2 separate regions of the Homo sapiens genome follow, and region 1 is linked to region 2. The links come from fine-mapping of genetic effects on gene expression. Tissue or cell type: tibial nerve. Region 2 holds a variant in brackets; the other region holds the start of a gene. All regions are shown on one strand. Distances are from middle to middle.

What was found. PIP is the estimated chance that this variant, and not a neighbour inherited with it, causes the effect.
Region 1: B3GAT1 starts here. The variant in region 2 is fine-mapped to the expression of B3GAT1 in tibial nerve (GTEx, PIP 0.95).

The regions. Positions count from the first base shown.
Region 1 is chr11:134,407,626-134,415,731 of GRCh38, forward strand. It overlaps B3GAT1 (beta-1,3-glucuronyltransferase 1), which reads right to left and starts at 4,617. Exons shown (of 6, transcript NM_054025.3): 1 at 4,182-4,617. RefSeq lists an enhancer at 3,206-3,765.
Region 2 is chr11:134,797,534-134,805,639 of GRCh38, forward strand. No RefSeq gene overlaps it. Among named protein-coding and RNA genes, the nearest start is that of LINC02714, 66 kb to the left of the region's middle. RefSeq lists an enhancer at 4,231-4,731. The variant G/A (reference allele first, on the strand shown) is at 4,701.

The DNA of each region.
Region 1 (8,106 bases), 390 kb before region 2:
GGAGGCTGCCTCCTGCCCTGCTGTCAGCTGGTGTGTGCGCAGGGAGCGCAGGCTCATTTTAATATTGGCTGGAGCTAAACCTCATTAGAAAAGTAAATTTGCTGTAGCTGCAAAAAAAAAAAAAGCAACCCACATAACCCTTCCAAAGCTAAACAGAAAACACTAGATTTGGACTTTTGGATTATTTGATGTTTCACGTTCCCAGCACCTGGTGCAGAGCCTCCAACACCGTAAGTGCTTGGTCAGTGTTGGTGCAAGTGAACTGAATTTTGGGGGCTCTCTGACCACCCTGTCACCTTTCAGCATGGATAAGAAGGGCTCACAGATCTGGAATTTTGGTGTCAAGATTTTTTTTTTTAGACGACCATTTGCTGATAAATTGGAAGGATTACATTTAACAATAATTAGACACGAAAGTATTATTTTGTGTTTGGCAAGGACGAACTCTGAGCCAAGGCGGGCTCTGGGTTCTTTGGGTTGGGATAAGGAAGGGTGGGTCCAGCCCAGAGTCTGGAGGTGTGAGGACTCAAGCGGGTGAGGAGGGAGGTGGGACAGCCTGCACCGATTCCAGTGGGGTGAGGAGGGAGGTGGGACAGCCTGCACCTATTCTAGTGGGGTGAAGAGGGAGGTGGGACAGCCTGCACCGATTCCAGTGGGGTGAGGAGGGAGGTGGGACAGCCTGCACCGATTCCAGTGGGGTGAGGAGGGAGGTGGGACAGCCTGCACCGATTCCAGTGGGGTGAGGAGGGAGGTGGGACAGCCTCCACCGATTCCAGTGGGGTGAGGAGGGAGGTGGGACAGCCTGCACCGACTCCAGTGGGGTGAGGAGGGAGGTGGGACAGCCTGCACCGATTCCAGTGGGGTGAGGAGGGAGGTGGGACAGCCTGCACCGATTCCAGTGGGGTGAGGAGGGAGGTGGGATAGCCTGCACCTATTCCAGTGGGGTGAGGAGGGAGGTGGGACAGCCTGCACCTATTCCAGTGGGGTGAGGAGGGAGGTGGGACAGCCTGCACCGATTCCAGTGGGGTGAGGAGGGAGGTGGGATAGCCTGCACCTATTCCAGTGGGGTGAGGAGGGAGGTGGGACAGCCTGCACCGATTCCAGTGGGGTGAGGAGGGAGGTGGGACAGCCTGCACCTATTCCAGTGGGGTGAGGAGGGAGGTGGGACAGCCTGCACCGACTCCAGTGGGGTGAGGAGGGAGGTGGGACAGCCTGCACCTATTCCAGTGGGGTGAGGAGGGAGGTGGGACAGCCTGCACCGATTCCAGTGGGGTGAGGAGGGAGGTGGGATAGCCTCCACCTATTCCAGTGGGGTGAGGAGGGAGGTGGGACAGCCTGCACCGATTCCAGTGGGATTGGCTCCAGGGCTGGCCTGACGCTGCTACTCCAAATTCTAGAGCCATCCTCATCCTGGAAGCAAGGGGGTGAGGGTGTATAAAATAAATAGATTAAATTAAAATTCATCTAGTATTTCTTCTAAAAACTGGTGAGATGACAGTTTCCCAATTTATAGACTGCCAGGAAGCCGGGGCTTAGAGAGCTCTGTTTTTTTCAAAGTCTACTCGGCTAGCCACAGATGGAGATGAGACTGGACCTCAGACAGCCTGGCCAAGGGCCTGTCCCCACTGCACTTCTTCCATGTCCCCTGGCTAGTCTTCAGTAGGGTCCCCAAAGGTCTTTTTGCCTGGGGGCCTGGGGAGGGGGTGCATGACTTCTCTTCTTCTCCTGAGTGCCAGGTTTCCCCAGACCCCACATCCTTCCCCACTGCCCTGCATTCCAGGACCAGGAGGGCTGGGGCAGGGCCAGAAGATGGAGAGGAGCCCTCAGCATTGTGAGATGCTCAGGGGTGAAGGGTGTCCCTGAAAGTCCCTGCAAGCTCTTGATGTGCTTGACCTCATAGCCTGGCCTCCCTCTGCCTTTGGGCTTCTGTCTAAAAGACCCTCACATTCCTGAGAGCCACAGGAAAGCACCTTCCTCAGTAGAATGTCCAACTGCTCTAGTGAGGGGCCTCCTGCAGGGGTGGACAATTGCTGAGGTCGATGTAGGGGAACAGGGGGAGGCCCCCAGCCTGCCCCAACTCACCACTCAGTCAGGGAGGCCCTGACTTCTGCCTGTGTGCCTCCCTCTGCTGTCCGCCAGTGCGCCTCCGTGCCTTTGTCTCTTGTCTCACTGCCTCTTTCTCTGCCTCAGTCAGGCTCTCTCTCGGATTCCTCCTCCTCCTGAGCCCGTTCCTCTCCTCCTCTCCATTCTCATCAGAGAGGAACACTCATCCCTCTCTTCCAGAAACAATGGAGCACCATGCTCCTGTCCGCTCAGCCTTTCGGTTGGTGCATCCTCTTCCCCATCTCACACTCCCAGCTCCTGGCCGGCCTCATCACCCTGTGCTCCACACCTAGGAAAAGTATATCTGACTTGGTCCCCTTATCCCCGAGAAACCACTAAGAGAACCTTCAGGTCTCCCCAGAAGCCGAAGCTGAGGAACTGGGCTTGCCCCAGGGCATCCTCCTGTGAAGCTCCTTGGTCTCCGCCACGGGCTCCAATCCTGTTGCTGGAGCTTATCTCCTCAGTGATTTACCTGCCCCCTGCTTCTGGTGGAACAGTGAGTAACTGCCCAACCAGAAACCTACACACACATATTCAACACAGCGCCTGCAAGCTTCCAGCTCACCTGGACCTGGAGTGATCCCCAAGCATCCTGGGGTCAGGCACAGAAACAGGAACAGCGAGCTCCTGGCTCCAGTGCTGAATGGGGCACAGATGCATTAACTCTCCCAGTCCCATTAACCTTAGCAAGTATTTCTGCTTCCATGAAAAGGGGAAGAGGGAAAATGTCTCTAAGCTCTGGAACCTTTGGCAGTGCTGGGCATGGACTGGGCAGAGTGAGAAGTCTGTCTGAAGACCCTGGGAAAGGGTCTTCACCCCATGGGAAGAAAGGGAAGGCTTGATGTTTGGTCCAGTAAGGCCATTAATGGTCACCAACTGAGCAGACTCTGGGAGGAAATGTCTCAGTCTCTGCAGTGGCTACCAGCAGAGGTAGGGCGACATAAGCACAGAAGACAAATCTTAGAAAACCCTAGAACAACAGTCCTGTGCAGCCACATGCCCCACAGCCCTAGTAACTTAGGGAGTGATGTGCCTCCCATTTCCACACAAACACATCCAGGCATTGCACAGTGCTAGGCCCTACGACATCCGTACCCCAACATTTTCAACAGTGCGTGCTACACAGCCCAAGCTCTAGGCCCCATTGGGCACCCCACCTATGCAGGTGCCCATGCACTGGGCTAGCAACTGTCAGTAAAGGTCCCCTTCCTGTATGTCCAGAGTCCTTCAGCTCCAGCTTCTACAAGAATCCATGCAGCTAGGCCTGGCTGGGGGAGGAAGGGGACAGGGAAGTTGGCCAAGGCTCCCATGTGTGTGCATGTGGGGGTGGTTCTTGACCTTAGCTGCTTGGTACGGGGCTGTCACCTCCTTACCCTGGCACTGTCGGACCTGGTGGCTTCCTTCTCTATTTCCTGCCTCAACTCTCAGCCTCCTTTTTCTGGAAGTTGTGTGCTCTGACTTTGGAGGGATTGGGACCTCAGACCTGAGCCCAGGTGCAGATGGGAGGGTGGTGAACTGGTCGCGCCTCCTTCCTCCTTGCTACACCGAAGGTCCCAAGGGCCCTTTGCCACCCTTGCTACCCCTGGGTCCCTCAGCGCGCCCCGCAGAGCTCGGGCCCCCTCAAGAGAGTTAACTTGGCAGTGCCCAGGAGCCAGAGAGCGATCCAGAGAGCGCTGTTGGGCAGCAGGGGTGGGGAGGTGGGGGACGACTGACCCCTGACTCCTCATCCGGCCACCAGAAACCACCTGCTGAGGGGGCCGGGAACTGACGACTGAGAGCCCGGGCCGATTGTTAGAAGCTGCTGAGAACCAGCTCTTCCCCTAATCCCGGTCGACGAGGGCAGGCTGTGCCGGGTTTTGTTTCGCAGCCCCTCGGCAGCAGCGCCTCCCAGCCCGAGCTCGGTTCTCGGCCCCCTTTCCAGCTGCCCCCAGCGCGCGCAGCGCACACACACACACACACACACACACACACACACACCCCAGCGCGCGCCCGGGAGGACATGGCGTGGGCACCGATGGGGACGCAGAAAGGGGCTCTGTGCGCGGCGGGGCGCCCGCGGGGGCGCGGGGAGCACTGACCTGCGGCGACGAGTCCGGAGCGTCTCCGGTGCGGTCCATCGCGGGCAACGGCCCCTACGCCCCGGCCCCGGCGCCCCTAGACCGCTGCCCTGGGCCGCGTGCGGCTCCCTCCCCGGGGACTGTCGGGCTCCGGGCCCCCGGGGGCCACTTCATAGCCGCGGGGTCCGCGCGCCCGCCCGCCCCGCCCGGCCCCGCCGCCCCGGCCCGGCTCGTTCTGGGCTCAGCGAGGCGGCGGCCGAAGGCTGGGAGCGCGCGGGAGGGAGGGCGCGGGCAGGGAGGCGGGGGGCGGGGGGCGGGGAGGGGGAGCGGGGAGGGGGAGCGGGGAGCGGGCGCGGGGGCGAGAGGGGCGAGGGGGGCGCGCGGCCGGAGCCGAGCCGACCGGGCCGGCGCAGAGTCCCCGAGGTGGCGGCGGATGCGCCGGTGCCGCCGCGGCTCTGCCGGCGCCTCCCGCCCCGCCCCCACCCGCTCTCCGCCCCCGCCCCGCCCCCGCCCCGAGCCCGCGCCAGCGCCGGCGGGACCCGAGCTGCTAATGGTCGGTACCAACCTCGCCAGCCTAGGCGGGGGCGCGAGGAGGGAGGCCGGCGAGGGGACCCCCCCCCGGGATTGGTATCACCTCCCCACCGCCCCCCACCCTCCCCCGGCACCGTCCCCCGCGGAGGCGGCTCCCGCTTCAGGCGGCGGAGCAGGGGTGGCGGGCAGGGGCCGAGCGCACCCCCAGATCTCGGCTCTCGAGAGTTAAAGCTCGGCCCCCGCCTGCACCCCCATTCCACCCCGCCTCCATCCTGGCTGCTCCTGGCGCCCAGCTTGGCAGCCTCTCTCAAAGGGTGATTGTTTCCGGCCGGGCTGCTGCAGGAGGGCGGGGGGCGGCGCTCTGGGACCGAGAGGCCGAGCTGGGAAGCCGGTGGGGGATGCGGCTCCTTCCTTGGCTCCAGGCACCCCGGATGGGAGGTGGCCGGTGGGGGCGGACGGTGCCGTGCCGGGGTACGGGGTCTGCTGCCCCGTGGAAGGGCACCTCGAGCCGCCGCGCGTCAGCCTCACCCCAGCCTCCCCTTCCGGGCCGGTGCACCCGGCGTTCCGGAGAGAGGCCCGGGAGGCCTGCGTGGGCGGACGGGCGCGGGGAGGCCGGGGGCAGCGGGATCTCCAGGAGTTTCCCGGGCCTCTGCCGCGGTGTGTTGGTCGGCGGGGGACGGAGGCCAGTGAGTGGGCGCGCACTTGGACGTATGTGGGTGCACTGGTAGGGTGCCTCTGTGGAGCTGTATATTCCAGATACTCCTTCAGCTTGTCGGAGACTTTGAAGCCATCCTTGCACTCGTTTTAGAGGTTGGCATCTCCCGGTGCTCTTGGACACCTGTATTCGGGCCACACCCGCTGTGTCCTCTTCACAGCCCCAGGAGAAGGCCACCTCCCATGGCGGGGTTCGCGGCGGGACCAGGGACTGTCGGTACTTTCTCTAGGGTCTCCCTCCTTCCCGGGAAACCAGTTCCAGCCCCACTGCTAGGCACTGCTTAACCAGAGCTGTGCCCCCGTGCTATGGGCTGGGGCTGAGGACCACGGGCCTCTTTTCCATCAGCTTTCCTGCCCTGTTAGGACCAAGCCGGGCCCTGCTCTTCCCACTGAGGATGTGCAGGTGGGGAGGGGGCAGAGACTCCAGAATCAGCCCCTTTGGTCAAGATTTTGAGGGGAGGAAGGCACCTCACCGTCCGTATCATGCCACAGACATGTGAAAGTGTCCTTAGTGACTATCTCTAGGGATAACTGCTCCTCCTTGTCGTGCGCTCTTTCATTGTTGTGCTTAACAGCCCCCTTTGCCGGCAAGAAACTTCCTCTGAATCTAACCTCAGTACCTCCTGCTGCGGTACAGGAGCATTTCCCCCTTCTCTTAATGAGTGGAATCCCAGCCAGCCTTGCTCCGCCTTCTTCTGCCCCTACTACAACCCTCTCTTTTAGACTCTGCTAAGAGACCTTTCCTAAGTCGGTGTTCTCTGGTATTTTCCTAGTCTCCATACTCTGCTTCTCCTTAGACTCCACACCAGCTGAAGGGAGGGGAAGGGCAGGTGCAGAAGCAGGATGGGCGGGGGTACCAGAGAGCACCAAGGAGGGGCCAGGCCGTCCAGGAGGGCACATTGCCTCCCTCCTCTGCTAAGCCAGCCAGCCGCAGTCACACAATCACCAAATGGGAGGACAGAAATGACCGTGAAGACTGTCTCGTTCCAGACCCTCATTTTACCAACAGGGAAACACACCCATGAGGGGTGATCTCAAGAGAGCTCAGGGACATGGCGACGAGGAGGCCTGGGTTTCAGGCCGATTCTGAAGGCACTAGCAAAAGACTTCCCCTCAGGGCTGGTTTCAGTAATGAAACAGAGGGTTGGACTAAGTGGGCTGTGGTCCGACTTGTCCTGCTGGGCTGTGGCTCGGAGATGCTGTCTGCAGGGGTTCTCGGCTTTACCTCAGCATTCTGGCAGGAACAATTGTGATAATAAAGCCGCTTTCAAGGGACCTGTCTTGCATCTTAGTTCCAGGCTCTGTTTACAGAATTTTTAGTATTAATTTTTAGAGCCAATTTAAAACAATAATAGGAGATTAAAATTAGCATGATAAGGCTCAGTGAAGAGACAACAGCCTGCCATTCGTTTTGGTGGGAAGTTTTGGCAACATCCCAAGTGTATGGACACACACAAATGTACTGACATCTACGCAGGCACAAAACATGCTCATAGAGGCAGCTACACATGCAGATTCACCCACATGAACACACACACACACTCTGAAATACATCATGTGCACATGTAAACGCTTGCACACGGATGTACCTGAAGCACCTGCACCCACACAGACACACGTGTACACACACCATCCCCCGGGTCAGCCACACTCCCACCCCTGTCTTCCTGCTTGGCCTCTGCAGGACTGTGGAAATCCTTCCCTCCCATGTCTGGACTTGGTGCATCCTCACAGCTTGACCCTTGCTCCAAACATCTGGAGCACCTCTAAGGTCTCCCTGAATGATTGATCTTCCCCTCCCCCTGCCTTCCCTGCCAGTAGTGAGCCCCTCTTCTCAGAGGCCCCCAAAGCCTAGCACCAGCATGTTTAGTATGCAAAGCCCGGGTTTGTCCTCTGGGACAAACCGTTATGTGTTTATTGTGTAGTTAAGCAGGACGGGAGCCCTGCCCCCGCTCTGATCCTGGCCCACTTCCCATAATCTGAATCCCAGAAGAGTCCTGTAAAACCGTCATCTGCAATGCAAAACCTGCAAAACATCTGGGATGGTCTGTAGGTTTTCTCCAAATCACCTGTGCCCTAATTTAATATGAATAACAATTAGTTTACTCTTATCAGTTAATTGTTCCCCTCGTGGGTTCTGTCTGCCCTGGCCTCTCTTTCAGCAGGAGTTTTGGTCTGCTCCAGACTCCTAATGATACTGCCTTTTCAGCCGTGCCGTCCTTCTTAGCTACCACCCAAGAGAGGCAACGCAGCTGCGCTGCTTGCCGCCCTGGCCTGTGGGGCCCAGGCCCTCACCCCACCCGTCTTAGCCAGTCTGATTGTTGGGGGCCATCCAATCTCCCCTTGCCTTCACCAGGAATCTATAGCAGTGATTTTGCTGATGTGAGTGGAAAGGTCCCAGTGGGATTCTTCAGTGAGGAATCCCACCCCACAAGGTGCCCGTCCTCTCCCGTCATTGCCCTGGCAAGGGTGACAGCACATGCACATGCATGGGCACACCCAGATGCTGCCAGAGAGCAGGGGGAGTGAGAGGAGGAAGAGCTGCCCTCTGCCTCGGCAGGCAGGGTGAGCTCCCCAGGGACCCAGCCATGCTATCAGGCGTGTCTGAACTGTTCCCACAGTGGCTCCTGGACGGATGTGTGTGGATGTGCTGTTTTGGGTGGTGGAGTTCATGGCCCAGATACAGAAAGAGGAGGAGACC
Region 2 (8,106 bases):
TTTGAAGCCAAACGTGAGAAGCTTCTAGATTACCAAAGTATCTTAACCTTAGTGACATCAGAAACTCCCATGAAACTTTTCAACTCTCCTACCGCCCGGGACCGCTTCAGGTCCATCAAGCCCTGATTTCTGGTGGTGAGGCCAGGATACCTGTGTATTATCAATAATTTCACTGGTGAATTTGATGCAACCCCAGGTGAAGACCCATTGATTTAAGCCAAAAGTCTTTATTTAAGTGTAAACTGAACCAGGTAAAGTGTGTTGTGCAATATTTATTATGCGACAGCCGAATGGACCGGAATTTTCCAGCCACATGCCTCAGAGGTGCTGTGGCTGAAAGGGAACGGCCACATAACTGGGCAGCTGTGGAGAGGCGAGCGGGGGGCAGGCTGCTGTGTCAGTGCGGGGCCTCCGCGGCTGGGCTTAATCACTGTGTGGCCAGCTGACGCCCTCTGGCTTTTCTTTTTTTAATTAAATAGATAAATTCTGTGTTTCACTTAAGGCGTATTGTTTACCCTGCATGGGTCTAAAGAGCAGGGGCTAGAGAGGCCATGCGGTCTATTTAGCCAAGGCTCCAGCAAATGGTTCTCTGGAGCAACAATGGCAAACGGAGGGACTAGTCCACTGTGATGAGCAAGTTTCATGTGACAGTGTTGGAGAGTTAAACTTCAGAACGAGGACTTTCTCATGGCACAGGAAACTATAGTCAAAGGCCATAAGGATGGTGTTGGATGGGGGTGTGGACCACGTGGATGGAGGAACGCTGTGGTCTGTACGAACAAACTCTTTTTTTTTAGACAGAGTCTCACTCTGTTGCCCAGGCTGGAGTGCAATGGCACAGTCTCAGCTCACTGCAACCTCCACCTCCTGGGTTCAAGCAATTCTCCCGCCTCAGCCTCCCTAGTAGCATGGACTACAGGCACGTGCCACCAAACCTGGCTAATTTTTTTGTATTTTTAGTAGAGGCGGGGTTTCACCATGTTAGCCAGGATGGTCTCGATCTCCTGACCTCGTGATCTGCCCGCCTTGGCCTCCCAAAATTCTGGGGTTGCAGGTGTGAGCCATTGCGCCCGGCCATGAACAAACTCTTAGGGGAGAGGAACAGAGGGGGAGCGAAGGAGGGAGGATGGAACCTGCCTGCCCTGGCCGGCCAGCTCCTGGAGGCTGCACGGAGGAGCCCAGCAGGAGCTGGAGACTGATGTGAAGACTGCAAGCCTGGTAGAAATGCCAAGCCTAAGCTGTATCCATAAATAATAATGACTTTATTTTCCCCCATTGCTAATTAGAAACAATAATATACAAGGAAACAGAAGTTACTTAATGTATAATTATTCAGTCAGCAATTTTCAAATCATAAATATGGATTGCTGTGAGTTATTGCGTTGGAGTCTTCTGAAATAGAGCACAATATGCAAATGTGATTAACACAGCCATGCGCCCAGTCACTCTAAAAGTTGCTTTTCCTTTCCTTAATAAACTGATTGTTGCAGCCAGGTGTAGGTCGTTAGCATTGATAAGCAGAGGTCCCTTTCCACCCTGTTTCCTGCCTCTTTCCTCTCCTGCAGATGGAAAGAGTGAGATGGGCCAGCAGGTTCCTATAGGATGAGCCCTCGAGACCTGAGACCAATGCTGATCTGATAAATAATTGGCATTCTGTTTCAGGAGGCGGAGGGCTAATAAGCTTTTCCAAGGTAAAGTGTGGAGCTCTGCAGAGCATTCTGGGAGGACAGCACAGGTTCACATCCCACCCTCACTTCTCCTGGGTGATCCCAGCCCCCTGCTCATATCCCACCCCCGCCTCTCCTGGGTGATCCCAGCCCCTGCCCACCCACGTGGCAGCCTCACCCCAGCCCAGACCCATCTTCTGAGCTGCGGGCTCTTTATGTGACAGCCTCACCAGAATAACTCACTGCCATTCCAAACGTAAAGCACACAAATGCAAGCCTTGATCCACGTCCTCCTTCCCTCATCGATCTGTTCCTACTTCAGCCTTCATTATCTCCAAAAATCACACCAAGCCAGAAATGTAAGAACTGAAGCCAGAAATTGCTCATCAGAAATGTAAGAGTCACTTTGACGCCTCCTTTTCCTTTCTCCTCACTTCTAATCCATAAGCAATTTCTGTCATTTCCACCTCCAAAATAGACTCCCTTCCCTCTGTGCCTTCACAGCCACCGTCAGGACCTGAGCCACAGTCATCCTTCACGGCAGACCACAGCTCCCGCTGTGAGGCCTAGCCAAATCTAAGCATAGTTCCTTCACTGCTCCTCCTGATTCCAACCTTATCTTCCTCTAACTCATTCACCATAGAAAATCCAGTGTGATCTTTCAAAGTATACGTTAACTCGGGAGGCTGAGACAGGACGATCACTTGAGCCCCAGGAGGTCAACGCTGCAGTGAGCCATGATCCTGCCACTGCATTACAGCCTGGGTGATAGAAGGAGGCTTTGTCTCTCTCTCTCTATCTCTCTCTCTATATATATATAAATTTATATTTATATAAATATATATGTATGTATATATATTATGTGTGTATAATACACATATATACATACATATATATACGTATATTTTACACACAGATAGATAGATAGATACATAGATACCATTTACTTCTTTGCTGAAGACTCGTCAGTCTCTTCTTATCAACACGCTAAGCCCGGAGCCCCAACCCGGTCAACGTGGCCGTGTGGCGCGGCTGCCCCCCGCTGCTCTCTGCCAGCTGCTCTCTGCTGACCTCCCTCAGCCACCGTGGCCTGCTCTTGGTCTCTTGGATTGCAGTGCTTTCCTGCCTCAGGACTGAAACGTGCTGTCCACCCTGCTGGACACAGCCTGGGTCCCCACCTCCCGCTGGCTTTCCCGTCTCCTCTTTCAGAGCCCAGGTGCCTGTCACCTCGAGGGAGGCCACAGCGCAGGTCTCTGTGCCCTCTCCCACGGCGTCTAGACCTGGATTTTCCTGTCACCTCACAAATCACAACCATGGATTTCTCTTGTTTTCACTCATCATGTTTGTGAGTGAGCAGCTTTGCTGTGGAGTTGGGGAAAGAAGCTCTGACCAGGATGCAGGGCCGGGGTTGCTTCCCATGGAGCCGCCGCCTCTCCTTCCACCTCTGGGAAAGCCTCTGTGCCTCTTCTGACCCGGCACCCTTCCCTTATATGAGAGAATTGAGACAGGCAGCCTTCACGGGTCTGAATTCAGAATAATAAGAGATGTTTTCACTCCCAGCATCACTGTGTGGGCACCTGCTGTGTGTACAAAGGGCCCCATGGTGCCTCAGCAGTTACCTTGTAAAATGGGGACTTCGTGGGTGAAAATTTTAATCAAGAGGCCTATCCAAGTCTAAGTTTCTCTGCAGGGTCCAAGGGGCTGTCTGAAATTGCCCTCTGTGTCTGTGAGCATTTGGCTGACAGCAGCGAGTGGGAGGGAAGACAGCGCTGCGTGCACCAGCTGTCGGAAGCTGAAGCCCTGGGGAATGGTTGGATTCACTGAGTGGGCAGTGGGCGCTTGGAGACTGACATTTTTCAGGAGCTCAGTATGGAGTGCCTGCGTGATTTTCATGAGAATGGGCAGTACTAACTTCAGAGCAATTGGGGAGCCCAGTGTCACGGATTCCTCCCTCACAGACAGCTGCGGGCGAGAGGGACGCTGGCCCCTTATCCAGGGTGGCCCCAAGTGTCTGCACCAGGTCTGCGGTGGAAGCAGCTGCAGCAGGAATGAGAGAAACAGAAGACTTAGATGTGAGCCCTGAAATGTTAACTTTATTTCCTAAATGAGGTGATGCAAATAAGTGAGGGAGACAAAATGACCGACTGGAAGCAGCGAGCGACACCAGCAGCACTGCCTCCCCGCCGATGCTGGCAGGAGGCTGTGTCCAGATCACACTCTCTTTGGCCACTTCAGATGCAATTCAGTTACCAGTTCTCACAGTAATGAACCTGCCAGGCTGGAGAACCAGTCTAAATGCCCGTGTGCTTTTCAAGCTTCCTGGTTCTCCTCTTTGGCTTGAGGTACACGATTATAAAATAAGAGATATGGGAGCAACAAGACCATGTTTCCTACAGGTCCAGAATGGGAGAAGGCTGAGGCAGTGAGGACTCGAGAACATGGGCCAGTCAGCAAGTCAGGGCAGAGAAAGGGAAGGAAACAGGGCAGGAGGAAGGGAGGGAGGGGAAGAGAGGGATGCGGGTGGGGTGGGGGAAGGGGTTGGACAGGAAGCAAAAAAAAGAGGATGAGCTCAAGAGACGGGAGAAAGAAAAGGAGAGGGAGAGGAGAGAGACGTGGTGGAGGACATGTGAGAGGTGGGGTGGCTAAGAGGAGAAGGAGACGAGCTTTTGTCTGGGGCATGTGATTTGCATACCCTCAAATAAAAGTGGACCCAGGCAGATAAAATCAATTACAGCATATATGATACTGAGAAATTCACAATCTGTACACAAACACAGCAGCAATGCCATGAGCTCATTAGCAACCTGCAAATACAAAGAGAAATGCATGTTTGCGGCCGTCTATCCTCATTGTTTCATCCCCTGGCCCCCAGCTCCTACGGACCAAAGAATGTCATTTCCTTCTGATGAAAAGTTTTTCTCTGACCCTAGTGCTCTTCTCTATTTTCAATTTGAACAGAGTCTCCATTGCTGTACCTTACTGGGTTATACAATACCCTGTGAATGAAGCCTTTCAATCAACCTGCATGTCAGC[G/A]CATTGCATAGCTCCTCAGCCCCACAGGCTCCAGCCTGCTTGCTGCTGTGCGGTGACACAGCCTCCTCCAGCTCTGGCAGTTGTGCTGTGTCACATTCCTCTGAAGACCCGTGGCTAGTGTGCAGCAGACTTCTCTTTTGTCTGGAATCTCCTGCTCCTCACTAGAGGATGCTGGAAGGGCACTGGTGCCTGCAGGCTGTTGTCTGTTACTTGCTTAGAATGTCATTCCACCAGCCTTTGTTAAGGGAGTGAAGTCCGTGGAGGTACACGAAGACGAGGGAGGCTCATTCTTTGTGCTGATGTTGATCTCCACCTGACTCACGAAATAAGTGATTCACAGAAGACTATTTTTAATCTTTAACAAAATTTGAAATATTATAGATTCACAGGAAGTGGCAAAAATACAATCCAGAGAGTTTCCCTGTATTATTCAAAAGTTGGATTTTATACAACTACACACCATATAAAAAGCAAGAAATTAACATTGGAATGCTGTGCGTATAGTTCTCTGTTCATTTATCATATGTGTAGATTTGTGTAATTGCCACTGAATCAAGATGTAGACTCATTGCATCATCACTCTTTGTGATCTCTCTAGTCTTATTCATTTACGGTCATATTCAGCCTCCTGCCCCCCACAATCCCGAATCCTCATCAACATTAATTTTTTCTCCATATCTACACTTTTATAACTTCAAGAATGTTATAGAATCTCTATGTGACCCTTAAAGATTGGCTTTTATTCACTCAGAATTGTGCCCCTGAGAGGCATCCAACTGGTTGTATGTATCAAAACTTTCTTTTATTTGTAATTCTCAGTAATGGTACGGATGTACCACAATTTGTTTAACCATTATCTTATTGTAGGGTATTTTGATAGTTTTCAGTGTTTGACTATTGCAAATTAATATAATATAAGCACTTACATTCTGTGTTTTGTGTGAACATAGGTTTTCAATTCTCTCTCCAGGTGTGCAATTGCTGGATTATATGGTAAGTATATGTTAGTTTTTTTTAATTTCCAAACTGTACTCCACAGTACCATGTTATAACCCCACCAGCAATGTATGAGAAATCACATCCTCAGCAGCAAGTGTTATTGTAGCTAATTTTTGTTCTTTTGGTGGGTATTTAGTGATAGCTCATTATGGTCTGAATTTGCATTTCTCTGATGGCTAGTTATACTGAACATCTTTTCATGTACTTATTTTTGATTTGTACCTCTTCTTCAGTGAAATATCTATGTTTTCGCTAACTAGTTAATTGAGCTGTTTCTATTTTTATGGTGAGTTTAGAGAGTTCCTTATATACTCTGGATAGTAGTCCACTGTCATGTATGTGTTTTACACATGTTTTCTCACAACCTGTAGGTTGTATTTTATTTCTTTTGACACGGTCACTTGTAGATTAAAAGTTTTAAATATTGATAAAGTCCAATTTATTGATTTTTTTTAACAGATCAGGGTCCTGGTGCCATATCTAAGAATTCTTTACCAAGCTCTTGGTTTTAAAAATTTTCTTTGTTTTCTCCTAAAGTTTTTATAGTTTTTCAATTTACAATTCTATTCATGATCCATTTTCAGGTAATTTTTGTGTAAAGAGTGTGGTTTAGGTTGAGGTTCATTTTTCCCCGATGCTGTTTATTGGTCAAGCATCACTGGCTGGAAAGACCCTCCTCCCTCCAGTAGCTGCTTTTGCAACTTAGTAAAAACTCAAATGAGCATATCTGCATGGTTCCATTTCTGTTTCATTGATCTGTCTTTTGTCCAGTATCACCCTTTCTTGATTACTACAGACGAAGATGCTCCTCAGTTGTTGATGCGGTTTTCTCCCAATAACTCTAATATAAATTAAAAATATCGTAAGTTGACACCTAACCTATCAAACATCAGAGCTTAGCCTCGCCTACCTTAAACATACTCTGAAGACTTATGTTTGGGCAATATTATCTAACACAAAGCCTATTTCATAATAAAGTATTGAATATGTTATGCAATTTATTGAAAACCGTACTGAAAGGAAAAGCAAGATGGTTGCATGGGTTCTCACCATCAACATACACAGCTGGAAGCGTGCTGGGCCTGAAGAACGTTCAAAGCCCTGAACTAAAATTAACTGCTGGACGATGGTTGTGCTGCAGGGTCACCAACCTCTCTCTTTTCTGATATGGCTTGGGAATTGCTGCTGGAAGGCTCTAGGGCACCTACACTTATTGGTGGTTTAGCAGGAATCGTGTTCCTCAGGAAGATGTCACGAATCAGTATCGGTTGCTTACCCTCGTGATCTCGAGGCTGACTGGAGCTGAGGCTCCCTGCTGCTGCCCAGCCCTGTATCACAGGGCATATCACTAGCACAGGAAAAGATAGAAATTCAAAATTTGAAGTGCTGTTTCTACTGAATGCATATTGGTTTTGCACCATTGTAAAGCTGAAACATCCTAGGTCAAGCCATCATAAGTCGGGGATCATCTGTATATTGTAGGTGTTAACTTCAGATAGAATGACTCCTCCCACTGTTTTTCAAAAGTGTTTTAGCTATTCTAGTATTTTTTCATTTTCATATACATTTTATAACAATCTTTTCTATATCCACAAAATAGCTTGCTGAGAATTAGAATTTGTTGGCAATGACATTAAACTTGTATACCAATTTGAGGAGAATTGACATCTTTATTATGCTGAGTATTCCAATCCAGGAACACAGCATGTCTCCATGTGTTTAAACGTGTTTTAAATTTTTCATCAGTATGCTGTAGTTATCGTCATATGATTTGCATGTATGATTTATTAGATTTACATCTAGGTGTTTCATGTCTTTGGTGATTATAAGTGGTTTTGTATTTTAAATTTTTCTTTCCATGTGTGCATTGCTAGTATATAGAAATGCAATTGATTTTTGTATGGCTAACCTTGTAACCATGCTGAAATTACTTACTCGTTCTTGGGGGTTTGTTTTGTTTCGGGGTTTTAAATTCCTTGGGATTTTCTATTGAGGTGATCATGTGATTTGCAAGTAGAGAGAGTTTTATTTCCTCCTTTCTGATCTGTATGCCACTTATGGCTAGAAGTTCCAGTAGCAAGTGGAATGAGAATGGTGAGAGCAAACACCCTAACCTCGCTCTTGATGGGAGTGGGATGCATTCAGCATTCACTATTCAGTGTCCTGTCAGCTGTGGAATTTTGGAGATGATCTTTATCAAGTGATAGGAGTTGCCTTCTAGTTCCAGCTTTCTGAGTTTTTTTTTTTTTTACGAATTTAATTGGTACTGATTTTTGTCCAGTGTTTGACATAGTCATGTAATTGTGAGTTTTTTTTTTTTACGAATTTAATTGGTACTGATTTTTGTCCAGTGTTTGACATAGTCATGTAATTGCTCTTTAGTCTTGCATCCCATGGTTATTGTGTA